Regions from separate parts of the Homo sapiens genome. Here region 1 is linked to region 2. The links come from fine-mapping of genetic effects on gene expression. Tissue or cell type: whole blood. Region 2 holds a variant in brackets; the other region holds the start of a gene. All regions are shown on one strand. Distances are between the middles of the regions.

Evidence for each region. PIP is the estimated chance that this variant, and not a neighbour inherited with it, causes the effect.
Region 1: it holds the start of DPP7, and the variant in region 2 is fine-mapped to the expression of DPP7 in whole blood (TOPMed, PIP above 0.99).

What each region holds. Positions count from the first base shown.
Region 1 is chr9:137,110,143-137,118,142 of GRCh38, forward strand. It overlaps DPP7 (dipeptidyl peptidase 7), which reads right to left and starts at 4,591. Exons shown (of 13, transcript NM_013379.3): 1 at 4,505-4,591; 2 at 4,321-4,434; 3 at 4,101-4,240; 4 at 3,723-3,886; 5 at 3,219-3,354; 6 at 3,064-3,145; 7 at 2,811-2,977; 8 at 2,603-2,663; 9 at 1,970-2,088; 10 at 1,731-1,887; 11 at 1,548-1,612; 12 at 738-808; 13 at 404-641. The coding sequence starts at 4,571. The coding sequence ends at 506. LOC124902314 (a long non-coding RNA gene) reads left to right here and starts at 4,657. Exons shown (of 2, transcript XR_007061874.1): 1 at 4,657-6,902; 2 at 7,029-7,636. RefSeq lists silencers at 4,287-4,436, 4,467-4,816.
Region 2 is chr9:136,997,660-137,005,659 of GRCh38, forward strand. No RefSeq gene overlaps it. Among named protein-coding and RNA genes, the nearest start is that of CLIC3, 5.1 kb to the left of the region's middle. RefSeq lists an enhancer at 2,507-2,626. The variant A/G (reference allele first, on the strand shown) is at 3,566.

The sequences.
Region 1 (8,000 bases), 110 kb after region 2:
GCACCTTCTCCATCTCACCCAGACCTCCGAGACTAACGTGCTGGGGGCGTGGTCCCAGAGGGTGGAGGGACAGCAACTGCATGCCCCTTGGGGGCCAAAAGCACTGTCCAGTGGCCTCCCCTGGAGGGGTCGCTGTGTACAGAGGATGTCAGGGAAGGAGTCACCTTGGAGGTGTGGCTGCAGCCTCTGTCTGCTGCGGCTCAGCAGAGCGGGGCTTCCTTGCGGGGCACTGCCCCCCGCTGCCCTAAGGAGCAGACCTGAGCGTTGTGGAGCCTCTACCTTGTGGAGCACATGGCATACCCGGCCTGTGTGGGGTGCGCCGCGTCCCCAGCCGTGTCTCCGAGGGTCCCGCTCCCACAGCCTGCGTGTGGGCCCCACAGACAGGAAGGACGGGACATACATGGCCAGGCCTCCAGGCGTTTATTCAGCCCCTTCCCTCTGCCGCCAGCTGCTTGAGTGAAGCCCCCACTCCATGAGGAGCCTTGAGACCCCTCCAGTCCTGTGCTCAGAGGCTGAGTCTGGGCCCCCCACGCAGAGCTGGCTGCTGCTCACGCCTGGCTGCCTTTACCCACTCGCCGATGATGGTGGCCTCCAGCTTCCGCGCCTCAACCACGGAAGCAGGATCTTCTGGGTGGGAGGCTCTGGGGAGCGGGCACAGAGGGGGCCCGTCAGCCCCAGCCCTCGGTGAGCCTGTCCCGCCCGACCCGCGACCACCGCCAGGCCACCTCCCTCCGCACCTGAGGTCGAGGTGGTGCGCTCCCCCCTGGATGGTGACGGCGATGACTGAGGCACTCAGGTTCCTCCGAATCTGTGGTCAGTGGAAAGAACTCCATCAGGTGAGGAACGAGGCAACTGCCCAGCCTCCGTGGGCCCATTGGAGAGGAGACGTGAGAGGGCGAGCCGAGACTCAGTGCCCATCAAGCAACCAGAGAGAACCAGCCAGAGACGGAGGTGGGAAGTGACGAGATGATGGGGGCAAAACCGGGTGAGACAGGAGCAGGGAAGGGGCAGGTGTGAGGCCTGTGATCCCAGCACTCTGGGAGTAAGACAGGAGCAGGGTAGGGGCAGGTGAGGGGCCTGTGATCCCAGCACTCTGAGGGTGAGACGGGAGCAGGGTAGGGGCAGGCGAGGGGCCTGTGATCCCAGCACTCTGGGGGTGAGACGGGAGCAGGGTAGGGGCAGGCGAGGGGCCTGTGATCCCAGCACTCTGGGGGTGAGACGGGAGCAGGGTAGGGGCAGGCGAGGGGCCTGTGATCCCAGCACTCTGGGAGGCCATGCGGGGAAGATCGTTTGAGCCCAAGAGTTCGAGACCAGCCTGGGCGATATGGTGAGACTGTGTCTCTACAAAAAAATATTTTTTTAAATTAGCTGGGCATGTTGGTGAGCGCCTGTAGTCCCAGTTACTGGGAGGCTTGAGCCTCAGAGGTCAAGGCTGCAGTGAACCCTGATCTCGCCACTGTATTCCAGCCTGGGCGCCAGAGAAAGACCCTGTCTCAAAAAAAAAACAAACAAACTAACGGGGTCATAGGGCCCAGGCCAGGACTCACCCCGCCCCCTGCCCAGGGGTCCAGGTTCCCGTTGGAGAAGATGATGTTGCTGGCGGCTCTGAGATCTGCAAGGGGCAGAGAAAGTTGTGATGTGGGCCCCTCACGGGGGCTGTGAGCCATGGGCAGGGGGTGCAGAGCTCGGGGCAGAAAGCAGGACGCTGGCCCACCCCCCCTCAGCCTTACCACCCCCCCAGAAGCTGGTCAGCAGCCAGTCGGGCCGGGGCCACACGCCCCAGGTGTCCAGGCAGTACCGCTGGCGGAGCTCGTCAGTGAAGGGCAGGTCCGGGAACATATCGGTCACATTGTTGCTGGCGAAGGTCAGGTTGATCTCGGTGCAGGCCTGCAGGTGCCCCAGCCTGAGTCAGGCCAGCCCACGCCCACCCTTGCCCCCGAGTGGTTCCAGGCCACCCACACCCCCACACCTGGTAGTCCCAGGCCCTGGCGTCGGGGCCGGTGCCGCAGCCAGTGGGGTCAGCACAGCTGTGGTAGAGCCGGTAGATGTCGTAGCAGTGCTCGGAGCCCGAGGCGTTGTAGACCAGCCCTGGGGAGGAGAGGCGCTGGGGCCCAGCGGCCACACACAGACACACCGCGGGCTCCGGCCACCAACCTGTCCCCCCTCGGAATGGTCCTGCAGGGGATCTGGGGCTCTGGGATCTGTAGGTCCCAGTGAGGAAGGCCCTCCAGGCTACCTGCTTGGAGGTCGGCGGTGTCTGTGCTGCCAGCCCCGGGCCTGACTGTTGAGGGCCCCCCCGCTCTCCACGGGGCAGGGTGGGGCCTGCTGCCCTCTGTTGCCCTCCATGCTGGGGACCCCAGGGGCCCCTTGGGCAGCACCCACCAAGCTGGGCCTGGCTACAGCCAGTGCTGAGAGGGTCCCCAGGGACGGCCCCTGCCTCCCCCAGGGTTTCTGGGAAGGTCGTGCTGTCCACCCCACCACAGCCCTGGGGCAGGAGGCAAAGCCCCTGGCCGGGCTGCGGATCCTCGCCCCACCCGGCCCCAGGACCCAAGCCAAGCCTGGGGTCTCCACACTTGCCCATCTGGGGCCGGGGGAAGGGCACCTGCCAGTGCTCGCAGCCCCGTGATCCTCTGGGCCTCACTCAGCAGCCGATCACAGCCCACCTGGAGTGCAGGGGCAGCGGCGACTCAGCGGGGTCCCCTCCACCAGCTCCGCCTCCCTGGCTCCCAGGATGAGGGTCAGGCCGCTGACCACCAGCCTCGGGACACTCCAGCCGGCCTCTCCCTGCGCCCTGGGAGGCGGCGCCTCACCTTGACGGGGTTGGCAGGGAGGGGACCCAGGAAGTCAGTGGGGTAGGGGTAGTCCATCATGGCCAGCACGGTGAAGGCATTCCGGGCGAACATGAAGAGCTGGGTCAGGTCCTTCTCGTCTGACAGCGGCTGGCAGGTGCCGAACTCCCAGCGGACCGTGTCGTAGGCTGCGTGGAAGGGGCAGAGACTTGAAGTTTGGGCATAGCTGGCGCTGGGGCGGGTCAGGCAGTGGGAGGCGGTGGGAGGACCTCACCTCCCTGTAGGAACAAGTCCTTGATCTGTCGGAACGCTTCCCGCACACCCTGGGTGCATTTGGGACTCTGGCCCTCAAAGTCCTGGGGGAAAGAGACCGTGCTGACTGCAGCTGCTGTCCCTTAGGGGGCCTGGAGGACCCCAAGCCTCACTCACCGCCGTGACGTCCCGGAAGAACTGGTTGGAGTCGCCGAGGCCTGCCACAGCTAGAACGGGCGCGCTGGCCGCCAGCGCCCCCGCCACCAGGTGGGGATACTTCATCCTCAGGTAGGCACTGAGCATCCCCCCATAACTGGGTGAGGGACACAGGGTTAGGGCTGCTGCCCCCAACACCCCATTTCCTCTTTTCCTCCTCAGGGGCCCACAGGTGCCACAAGGAGGACGACACTTCTGAGACCCACAAATTCCAACCCTGGGCCAGGTGCGGGTGCAGCTCTCACTGGGAAAGGCCGCTAGTGTGGCCGCACATCCAAGCTGAGCAGGTGGCTGGGAGGACAGGTGGGAGGGCTTCCTGGGGGAGGCAACACTAAGCCTGGAACCACTGCCTGAGGCCTTACGAAAAGGCAGCGGTGGGAGTCAGAGGGGAGTGGGGAGAAGGGCTGGGGGCGCTGGGTCGGGGCAGGGGAGGGAGGGGGTGCGGAGGCCGGGGGAGGCGCCCACCTTCCACCGAAGGCGATGGCGGGGGCATCCTGGGCCCCGAGGTCGCGTCGTAGCGCGCGGAGCAGCTCTGCGAAGTCGGCCAGGGCCTGCTCCACCGTCAGCAGCTCCGTGTGCCCGCGCTGCGTGGACTGCGCACCGAACGGCAGCGACTTCCCGTAGTAGCGCTGGGGGAACGTGCCATTGAGCCCGGCCCCGCGACCCCGCCCGGCACCCGCGTGCCCCGCGACCCCCGCCCGCGACCCCGCCCGGCACCCGCGTGCCCCGCGACCCCCGCCCGCGACCCCGCCCGGCACCCGCGTGCCCCGCGACCCCCGCCCGCGACCCCGCCCGGCACCCACGTGCCCCGCGACCCCGCCCGCGACCCCGCCCGGCACCCACGTGCTCCGCGAAGACCAGTAGAGCCCCCCGCTCGGCCGCCAGCTCCGCGACGAAGGCCGAGTTGTTGGCGAAGGCCCACACGTCGCCCTCGTTCCCAGTGTAGAAGAAGATGGGCCCCTCGCCCCGGACCCAGAACCTGTCTGTGGGGAGGGCGGATGAGGCGAGGGTGCCGGGGGGCGGCGGGACGGCGGGGGCGGCCGGGCCGGGGCCGGGGTCTCACCCGACACCAGGAAGCGCTGAGGGAAGGTCTTGTTGCCGAAGCGCTCGAAGTTGAAGTGGTCCAGACGCTGCTGGAAGAAGCGCTCCTGGAAGCCGGGGTCCGGGGCCCTGCGGGCTGTGGGGGGACGCGAACCTCAGAGGCGGGGCCGGGACCGGGGAATGGGCCGGGGGGCGCCGCCACTCACCCCCCGCCTGGAGGCCGCGCAGCCCGAGCGCCAGCAGCAGGACCGGGGCCCAGGGAGCGGAGCCCATGTCGCCTTCCGCGGGCGCCCGTCACGTGGGCGGGGTCACGGGGCCGCCAGGGCGCGCTCCTCCCTCCAGGCCCCACGTGTTTCGGGCGCCCGCGGTCCCCACGGAGACCGTCGCTGCTTCAGCGCCGCGCCGGGGCTGTGCCCCCCAACACCCCGCGCCCCGCGGCCGCTGCCCAGGGGTCCTTCCCGGGCACGGCGCGGGGAAGCAGAGGGCCCCCGGGCCATCTCCGCGGCCTCCCGCCCCACTGGCTCGTCCTCCTACCGCGGCCCCATCCGGAGCTGCGCTAGGGCGAGTCCCTGCTGCGCCCGCCAAGCCTCCCCAGCACTTGCTCCTGGCAGGTGCCCCACTCCAAGGCAGGGCCGGGAGAGTGGGGGCCGTTCTGCTGCCCTAAGGGCGGGAGGGAGAGGGTCCCAAACAGAGTGCTGGCCCCCCGAAGAAAGCAACCCAGGGTTTGTCCAAGCGATAACGGGCTGGGCTTGGCGGGGCGGGGCCTCGCAGCGGGCAGGAGTGTGGGGTGCCCCTGGAGCGTCTGGGCAGGGCCGGGATGTGGCCGGGTAGCTCCCAAGAGCTGGGAATCGCCACCTGCCCTTCCGACTGGCACCCAGTGTGCCCACACAGCCCTGCAGGGACAAGGGGGGACCAGAGGCCTCTGCTGGGAGCTGGGGCCTCCTCCCTGGGGAGCACCCAGAGGATGGAAGAAGTCACCTTTCCCCAGCGTCCAGTTCAGGGAGTGGGTGAGGGGGCCGTAGTGGTGGGTGCCAGACTAGCTACGTGGAGTCCTGCTGGGGATGTACATGGGCCGCTAGCCAGGCCCAGAACAGGTGCAGGGGCAGCAGGGGCTCAGCTACAGAGAGTTACCCTGTCCTTCTCCCAAGACTACCCTCGGCCAGCATGACCCTGCCCTGCCCATCCTGTGTGGGGCTGAGCGGAGAAGACCGGCCACTTCCACAGCCCCTCACGCCATGGCCCTCCCGTGCCTCACACAGAGGCACCCCCCATGGTGGGTGACTGGTGGCTGGGGCCCTCAGCATGGTGGCAGTGACCATCACGTCACACTGCAACACGAGGTCATCCAGGGCCACACACCGTCCCCACCACGGCCCTCACATCTGGGCCCTGTCCCATCCCTACGCAGTTCCTGGGGCTGCCTGCCGGGGCCCCCGCAGGACGGGGGTGAGGACAAACAGCAGACCTCCTTGGATGTGGAGGTACCCCACGGCGTCCCCCACCCCACACCTCTGCTCCTTTGGCTCCCTCGGGTGCCTTAGGTGGCCAGAACTCCACCAGCAACCCTCACCCAGGACCGCAGCTCTGGAGACGCCAGCTAGGCCGAGAGCTGGCCAGCTCCCCAAGCACACCAGAGCCTGGAGACGCTCCAGGCTTGGCTGGGCCCACAGAGGGGCCAGAGCCTCAGGGAGGGCTCCAGGAGCAGGGTTTCCAAGGAAGCCACTTTCCCTCTTGTCCACGGCCCAGGCATTGATGCCCCTCTGGGCAGCAGCCAGGGCCTCCCAAGCCGGGAAGGGTGGGCATGGGGCTACCCAGCATGGCTCTGCCAGGGGTGAGGGTGGCCACAGTCCCCTGCCCACATCCCTGTGCCCACAGAAACATATGCTGTATGGAATCAAGGTTTAAGGCATCTAGGCCTGTGCTGGTAACCTGTAACCTTAGCCCCATCCCTGTGCCCACAGAAACATGTGCTGTATTGACTCAAGGTTTAGGGGATTTAGGGCTGTGCAGGATGTGCTTTGTTAACAATGTGTTTGCAGGCAGTATGCTTGGTAAAAGTCATCGCCATCCTCCATTCTCCATTAACCAGGGACACAGTGCACTGCGGAAAGCCGCAGGGACCTCTGCCCAAGAAAGCCTGGGTATTGTCCAGGTTTCCCCCCAGTGAGACGGCCTGAGATATGGCCTCGTGGGAAGGGAAAGACCTGATCGTCCCCCAGCCCGACACCCATAAAGGGTCTGTGCTGAGGAGGATTAGTGAAAGAGGGAGGCCTCTTTGCAGTTGAGATAAGAGGAAGGCTTCTGTCTCCGACATGCCCCTGGGAACGGAATGTCTCCGTGTAAAACCCGATCGTACATTAGTTCTATTCTGAGACAGGAGAAAACCGCCCTGTGGCTGGAGGCGAGATATGCTGGCGGCAATGCTGCTCTGTTACTCTGCTACACTGAGATGTTTGGGTGGAGAGAAGCATGAATCTGGCCTACGTGCACATCCGGGCACAGCACCTTCCCTTCAAGCTATTTGTGACACAGATGCCTTTGCTCACATTTTCTTGCTGACCTCTGCTCTGCTGCCGCATTCCTCATGCAAAGATAGTGAAAATGGTAATGAATAAATACTGAGGGAACTCAGAGACCGGGGCCGGTGCGGGTCCTCCGTATACTGAGCGCCGTCTCCTGGGCCCACTGCCTTCTCTATACTTTGTCTCTGTGTCTTATTTCTTTTCTCAGTCTCTCATCCCACCTGACGAGAAACACCCACAGGTGTGGAGGGGCTGGCCACCCCTTCACTGGCACAGCAACCTGACATGTGAAGGGGCCCAACTTCTGCAGGAGGACCCCAGGTCTGCATCGCCAGGGCCCTCGTCAGCCTGTGCAGGGCACAGTAGGTCACCCAAGGGGCAAGTGAGCCTAGGCTGCCCATGCCTGTGCAGACACCCCCGATCTCTCTCTGCCCATCCCCGGAGCAGCACAGACGGGCAGGTTGGCTGCAGAGCCACCAGCTGAGGGGGTGAGAGGTCCCTGGGCAGGGAATCCTGGGAGCCTGGCCAGCAAGGGTGAGAGGCTGCTGAGCCCAAACCCTCCCCTCGAGGTCCATCTGCCCTCTCCAGACCATCTAGGCAGCTCCTCCACACCCCGATTCCTGCTGGGACACCCAGTCCCACCCTCTATGGCTCACAGACTGGGGGCCATGCCCGGCCACACATCACGTCTGTGCTGTCCCTCAGACTGAAAGGCTATCGGCGGGCGGCTGGCCGTGACCTACTGCATCCGCACTTGGGGCCGTGCTGGTCTGTGTGCTGAATTATACATAATATAAAATTGACCACTTAACCACTTCCGCGTGTGAAATTTGGTGGCATTAGGTACATTCCTGCCTTCACAACGCTGTGCACCGTCATCACTATTTTCCACTATCTCATCACCCCCAGTAGAAACTGTAGCCATTAAACAATGGACCCCAGCCCCTGGCACTCACCATTCTACCATCTGTCTCTGTGGCTCTGCTGACTCCAGGTACGTCATATCAGTGGAATCCTACAGCATTTTGTCCTTTTTTTTTTTCGAGACAGAGTCTCACTCTGTTGTCCAGGCTGGAGTGAAGTGACACGATCTCGGCTTACTGCAACTTCCGCCTCCTGGGTCCAGGCCATTCTCCTGTCTCAGCCTCCGGAGTAGCTGAGATTACAGGCACCCACCACC
Region 2 (8,000 bases):
CACCTTCTCCCCAGGGCCTTGGTACGGGCCCCTCATCCGTCCCCGGTGGAACACACTCCAGTGCTGCCCCAGTCAGCCCAGCCTGATGCTTCTCTGGATACCACGCCAGTCGGGGCTCCTGGACACAGAGCCTTGGAAATACCATGTGGCTGCCCCATCCTTTGGTGTCCTGAACCTCAATTTCCCTCCATCCGGCCTCCACCTCGATTCCAAGCCCTAGTATTTCAGCTCTTTCTGGACACTGTGGTTATAGCTCCGCTTGCTGGTTTCCCACATCCCTGGCAGGCAAATGGCCAACCACAGAGAAGCCCCAGGCCCCCAGCCCCCTCTGCTGCCCCGGCATCCTGTGTCTTTAACACCGACAGACGCACCCTCACAAACCCACAGGAAAAATGACGGCACGGACAGAGGCCGTGAACCGGTGGCTCAGAAGGAAAAAGAAAACAAGACACAGGAAGACCATTCACCTCACGCCCGTCTCAAGAAACAAACCAACAAGACTCGGTTCACCGCTGCAGCGGCCCCACTGCGTTCTGTGGGCGTGGGCTGTGGACTGTGGAGCGGCAGTGGCCATCCAACACCCCCCTGTGCCCTCGCCACCTGGGAATCAGCCCGGTGGCTTCCTTTTTTTTTTATGGTTTAATCAATTCATTTATTTACTAGAAACAGGGTCCTGCCATGTTGCCCAGGCTGGTCTCCACCTCATGGGCTCAAGTGACCCACCTGCCTTGGTCTCCCACAGTGCTGGAACTACAGGCGCGAGCTGCCACACCCGGCCGGTTTCCCTGTGAAGGGCAAGTGAGTGCTGGCTGCCCCACTGCGTGGCGTGGCGTGGCGTGGCGTGGCTCCGTGGCACGGCCACCACCCTGTCTATGGGAGACTCCAGTTGTGTCCAGGGAGAAGGACGGAAAAGGTGACTCCATGCATGCCCACTGCAGGGAGGGCCTGAGATTAGGTAAATGGCGTGGCTTGTGTCCCCTTAAATTTAAATTCTTAGGCTGGAGTCCTAACCCCTAGTGCCTCAGAATGTGACCTTATATGGGCCGGGCACGGTGACTCATGCCTGTAATCCCAGCAGTCTGGGAGGCCGAGGGGGGTGGATCACCTGAGGTCAGGAGTTTGAGACCAGCCTGACCAACATGGTGAAACCCCGTCTCTACTAAAAATACAAAAATTAGCCAGGCATAGTGGCAGGCACCTGTAATCCCAGCTACTCGGGAAGCTGAGGCAGGAGAAGTGCTTGAACCCGGGAGACAGAGTTGCAGTGAGCAGAGATAGTGCCACTGCATTCCAGCCTGGGCAACAGAGCAAGACTCCATCTTGGAAAAAAAATAAAGAATGTGACCTTATGTGGAAACAGGGGCTTTTTAACATTTTTTTTGAGACAGAGTCTTGCTCTGTTGCCCAGGCTGGAATGCAGTGGTGCAATCTCGGCTCACTGCAACTTCTGCCTCCTGGGTTCAAGCAATTCTACTTTCTCAGCCTCTGGAGTAGCTGGGATTACAGGTACACGTCACCACGCTGAGCTTTTTTTTTTTTTCCTTGTATTTGTAGTAGAGACAGGGTTTCACCATGTTGATCAGGCTGGTCTCGAACTCCTGACCTCAGAAGATCTACCCACCTTGGCCTCCCAAAATGCTGGGAATACAGGTGTGAGCCACCGCACCCGGCTGAAATAGGGTCTTTATAGAAGTTATCAAGTTAAAATGTGGTGAGTAGGATGTGCCCTGATCCAATATGACTGATGTCAGTATAGAAAGGCGAGTTTGGACACAGATGCACAGGGAGGGCCGCAGGCAGAAATCAGGGTGGCACATCTGTAAGCCTGGGAGCCAAGCGGATGCTCTCCAAGGCCCTTGGGAGGAAGCAGCCCTGCCCAAGCCTAGGTGCTATGTCTGACCTCCAGACTGCTAGGCAGTGAGCTTCTGTTTTTTTTGTTTTTTTTTTTTAATGAGATGCAGTCTTGCTCTGTCGCCCAGGCTGGAGTGCAGTGGCACAATCTCGGCTCACTGCAAGTTCTGCCTCCCCAGGTTCACGCCATTCTCCTGTCTCAGCCTCCCAAGTAGCTGGGACTACAGGCGCCCGCTACCACACCTGGCTAATTTTTGTATTTTTAGTAGAGACGGGGTTTCACTGCGTTAGCCAGGATGGTCTCGATCTCCTGACCTCGTGATCCGCTCGCCTCGGCCTCCCAAAGTGCTGGGATTACAGGCGTGAGCTCCCGCGCCCCGCGGTGTTGTTGTTTTAAGATGGAGTCTCACTGTCACCCAGGCTGGAGTGCAATGGCTCAATCTCGGCTCATTGCAACCCGCGCCTCACCGGCTGAAGCGATTCTCCTGCCCCAGCCTCCCGAGTAGCTGGGATTACAGGCGCCCACCACCACGCCTGGCTAATTTTTGTATTTTTAGTAGAGACGGGGTTTCACCATGTTGGTCAGGCTGGTCTCAAACTCCTGACCTCAAGTGATCCGCCCACCTCGGCCTCCCAAAGTCAGTTTCTGTTGTTTTAAACCCCTCACTTTGTGGTCCTTTGCATGGCAGCGCCAGCAAGCTAATAAGTAAAGCAGGGAGAAGCCAGGAAATGGAAGAAAATCAGCATTAGGATCTGTCATTCTGAGTCTCTACTTGAACAGAGCTGAAAAAAGACGCAAGGAGCTGTCTGTGGGATGACCCCTGACAGGCAGAAACAGGCTTTCAGTTTTGCTTCCTGTCTGTCCACACTGTTTGCATTTTCTACCACATTTTTGTAATACCACATTTTCTACCACAATTTCATAATGTTTTGAAGTAAGAACAGTATCACAGCCACTAACCTTAACTAGACCCTGGTCCCCGAGGCCACGGGGTTATCCCTAAACCTCCCGTCCCCTGCAGCCCCTGCTCCTGATTCATAGAGCCAGCGTTAGAGGGGCCCAAGCTGAGGTCCCGAGGCTGCTGCTCTGGGACTGACTGACTGGTGGGTTAGAACTCTCTCCCTCCCCAACACCCCTCCCTGTAGGCCCCTTCCAAGGGGCTCTTTTTTTTTTTTTTTTTTTTTTTTTTTGAGACAGGGTTTCACTCTGTCACCCAGGCTGGAGTGCAATGGCGCAGTCATAGCTCACTGCAGCCTCCACCTCCTGGGCTCCAGTGATCCTCCTGCCTCCGCCTGCACAGGGCCACACCCCAGTGACATTTGAGCAGCTCTGTTCTGAAGGGAGACACACACCTGTTTGGGGGGCCGGAGGGCTGGGGGCATTGGGGTATTGGTGCAAACTTGTGCAGAGATTTATCTGCTCTGTGCATGGAGAGAGCCTAGAAGCAGTGAGACCTCGGGAGCGGTGAGACCTCGGGGGCGGCGAGACATCGGGGGCGGCGTGACCTCGGGGGCGGCGAGACCTCGGGGGCGGCGGGACCTCGGGGGCGGCGGGACCTCGGGGGCAGCGAGACCTCGGGAGCAGTGTGCAGACCAGAGCTCAGATTCTGGTCCCAAAGCCCATCTTCCCTAAAAGGAACCAGGGTTCTGCTAGGGACTGAATGTGTCCTCCCCAAAATTTGTGTGTTGAAACCCTGGCCCCTAGGCCAGGCAC[A/G]TGGCTCACGCCTGTAATCCCAGCACTTTGGGAGGCCGAGGTGAGTGGATCACCTGAGGTTGGGAGTTCCAGACCAGCCAGACCAAAATGGGGAAACCCTGTCTCTACTAAAAATGCAAAATTAGCCGGGCGTGGTGGCACATGCCTGTAATCCCAGCTACTCGGGAGGCTAAGGCAGGAGAATCGCTTGAACCTGGGAGGCAAAGTTTCCGGTGAGCCGAGATCACTCCATTGCACTCCAGCCTGGGTGACAAAGCGAGACTCTGTCTCAAAAAAAAAAAAAAAAACAAAACAAAACCCTGTCTCCTGCAAGGTGATGGTGTTAAGAAGTGGGGTTGGCTGGGCGCGGTGGCTCAAGCCTGTAATCCCAGCACCTTGGGAGGCCGAGGCAGGCGGATCACAAGGTCAGGAGATCGAGACCATCCTGGCTAACATGGTGAAACCCCATCTCTACTAAAAATACAAAAAATTAGCCGGGCGTGGTGTCAGGCGCCTGTAGTCCCAGCTACTCAGGAGGCTGAGGCAGGAGAATGGCATGAACCCAGGAGGCGGAGCTTGCAGTGAGCCAAGATTGCGCCACTGCACTCCAGCCTGGTGACAGATCGAGACTCAAAAAAAAAAAAAAAAAAAAGAAGCGGGGTCTTTTGGAGGTGGGTAGGTCATGAAGGTGACACCCTCGAGATGACCAGAATCAGCGCCCTCATAAAAGGGACCCCGGAGAGCTCCCTCGCTCCTCCTGCCAGGTGAGGAGTCAAGGGAAGTCCACAACCCAGAAGAGCCCTCGCCAGAACCCAGCCATGCTGGCGTCCCGACCTCGGACTTCGAGCCTCCAGAGCTGTGAGGCATGAATGCCACCCGTCCAGGGTCCTTTGCACAGCAGTCCTGGTCGGACTGAGACAGGCTCCTTGGAGAGAGGCTGATTCCAGGTGTGGGGCAGGGAAGGCAGGGACGCACTCAAAACACATCAGGAGCTGGTTACGAAGACACAGAAGCCGTGCTGGAGGGGCGCCTGCTGGAGGGGCACCGCTGGCTGGACCTCAGGCCATCTGAGCATAAGACAACAGTGGATTGTGCGTTATGAATGGTTAACGTGATAAATGTTACATAGATTTTACCACCATCAAAAAATTTTAAAAGAGCCAGATGCAGTGGCTCACCCCTGTAATCCCAACACTCTGGGAGGCTGAAGTGGGAGAATCCCTTGAGCTCAGGAGTTGAAGACCAGCCTGGGCAATATAGCAAGACCCTATCTATACAAAAATAAAAATAAAAATTAGTCGTGTGTGGTGGCACATGCCTGTAAGGAGGCTGAGGCAGGAGGATCACTTGAGCCCAGGAGTTGGAGGCTGCAGTGAGCTATGATTGCACCACCACACTCCAGCCTGGGTGACAGAGCAAGACCCTGTCTCAAAATAAGTAATTAAAAGATGACAGTAATGCATGTTAACACATTAATTTTTTTAAACCTGCAAGTCTGTACTGATAGACTTTTTAAAGTGGAGGGGCCCTTGGTGAGAGAGAAATGCCAGCCAGTAGATGCAGAAATGGAATAGAGGCAGGAAATGGCCATTTTGCAGCTGCTGGCCCTGGGTGACGGGGGTCGGGGGGCGCGGCCACGCAGCACCCAGATTGCGTTCCCACATCTAAGGGAGGGAGAACTGGGCCTCAACCAGGCGGCCACATTCAGCATCACCTGCTGAGGGACAGATGGACACCTGGAGGTGACCGACACAGCGTGTCCCAGTGCTGCTCCGGCCAAAAATGTCCAACCTGCATCCAGCCAGGAGGAAATGAAGACACATCCAGAGCTCAGCCTGGGCCTGCGGAGCCTGTCCCCCTGGAAGGGCAAGAACGCCAAGGCTGGGGACGGCTCAGAGGGGCCCCGGGGAAGGCAGCAAGACACAAGGAGTGCCTCGTGGTTGGATCCTGGATTTTTATTTCCTTTTTTTGTTTGTTTGTTTGAGACAGAGTCTCACTCTGTCGCTGAGGCTGGAATGCAGTGGCACAACCTCAGCTCACCGCAACCTCCACCTCCCAGGTTCAAGCGATTCTCCTGCCTCAGCCTCCCGAGTAGCTGGGATTACAGGCATGTGCCACCACACCCGGCTAATTTTGTATTTTCAGTAGAGACAGGGTTTCTCCATATTGGTCAGCCTGGTCTTGAACTCCCAACCTCAAGTGATCCACCCGCCTCGGCCTCTCAAAGTGCTGGGATTACAGGTGTGAGCAACCATGCCCAGCCTTTTCTTTCTTTCTTTTTTTTTTTTTTTTGAGACGGAGTCTCACTCTGTCACCCAGGCTGGAGCGCTGCTCACTGCAACCTCCGCCTCCCAGATTCTAGTGATTCTCCTGCCTCAGTCTCCCATGTAGCTGGGATTACAGGCGCTACAATGCCCAGCTAATTTTGTATATTTAGTAGAGATGGGGTTTCGCCATGTTGGCCAAGCTGAACTCCTGATTTCAGGTGACCTGCCTACCTCAGCCTCTCAAAGTGCTGGGATGACAGGCTTGAGCCACAGCACCTGGCTGATCCTGGTTTTTTGGAAAAACTCTAAAGAGCATGCCTAGGGCCGGGTGCAGTGGCTCACATCTGTCATCCCAGCACTTTGGGAGGCCGAGGCTGGGAGATCACCTGAGGTTGGGAGTTCGAGACCAGCCTGGCCAACATGGTGAAACCCCCATCTCTACTAAAAATACAAAAATTGGTCAGGCACGGTGGCTCACGCCTGCAATCTCAACACTTTGAGAGGCCGAGGCTAGGCGATCACCTGAGGTCAGGAGTTCAAGACCAGCCTGGCCAACATGGTGAAACCCCATCTCTACTAAAAATACAAAAATTGGCTGGGCATGGTGGCACACATCTGTAATCCCAACACTTTGAGAGGCCAAGGCTGGGTGATCACCTGAGGTCAGGAGTTCGAGACTGTGGGCGGCAAGCTACCCAGGCACCAAGGCAAGAGACCGAGGACATGAGCTGTTCCAGTATAATAAAATATAAAACAAGAATAGTTATACCAGATATAGAACTTAGATATGATTATATATGAATATCATTAATCATTAGTTTGTAGCAATTACTTTTTATTCCAATATTATAATAATCCTCGCTCTATAATCATAGCCTAGGAAAAACCAGGCCATACAGAGATAGGAGCTGAGGGGACATAGTGAGGTGTGACCGGAAGACAAGAGTGCGAGCCTTCTGTTATGCCCGGACAGGGCCACCAGAGGGCTCCTTGGTCTAGCGGTGACGCCAGCGTCTGGGAAGACGCCCGTTGCCAGGCGGACCGTGGTCCAGCGGTAGCAAAAGGTGTCAAGGAACAACACCCGCTACTTAGCAGACCAGGAAAGGGAGTCTCCCTGTCCCCGGGGGAGTTTAGAGAAGACTCTGCTCCACCTCTTGTGGAGGGCCTGACATCAGTCAGACCTGCCCGCAGTTATCCGGAGGCCTAACCGTCTCCTGTGATGCTGTGCTTCAGTGGTCACGCTCCTAGTCCGCCTTCATGTTCCATCCTGTACACCTGGCTCTGCCTTCTAGATAGCAGTAGTCAATTAGTGAAAATACTAATAGTCCCTGATATGCAGAAATAATGGCATAAGCTGTCTTTCTCTCTGTCTCTTCTCTCTCTCTCTGCCTTGGCTGCCAGGCAGGGAAGGGCCCCCGTCCAGTGGACACGTGACCCACGTGACCTTACCTATCATTGGAGATGGCTCACACTCCTTATCCTGCCCCTTCTGCCTTGTATCCAATAAATAACAGTGCAGCCAGACATTCGGGGCCACTACTGGTCTCCACGCATTGGTGTTAGTGGTCCCCCGGGCCCAGCTGTCTTTTATCTCTTTGTCTTGTGTCTTTATTTCTACACTGTCTCGTCACCGCACATGGGGAGAGACCCACCGACCCTGTGGGGCTGGTCCCTACACGAGACCAACCTGGCCAACATGGTGAAACCCCATCTCTACTAAAAATACAAAAATTGGCCAGGCGCGGTGGTTCACACCTGTCATCCCAGCACTTTGGAAGGCTGAGGCTGGGGCAATCACCTGAGGTCAGGAGTTAGAGACCAGCCTGGCCAACATGGTGAAACCTCATCTCTACTAAAAACACACACACACACACAAAAATCAGCCGGGCATGGTGATGCGCGCCTGTAGTCCTAGCTACGCAGGAGGCTGAGGCAGGAGAATGGTGTGAACCCGGGAGGCGGAGCTTGCAGTGAGCCGAGATTGTGCCCCACTCCAGCCTGGGCAAGAGAGTGAGACTCCGTCTCCTCAAACAAATAATAATAAAAAATAAAAAAGGGCATGCCTGGGCCACCGGGGCCCTGAAAAGCCTTGCTGTACCCTTTGTTAACTCTGGGCTACCCTGGCGGCTCTTGGGGGAAGGAGGCTGCAGGGCCGGGGCTGGCAGGTCACAGCTGCTTGCTTTCACATG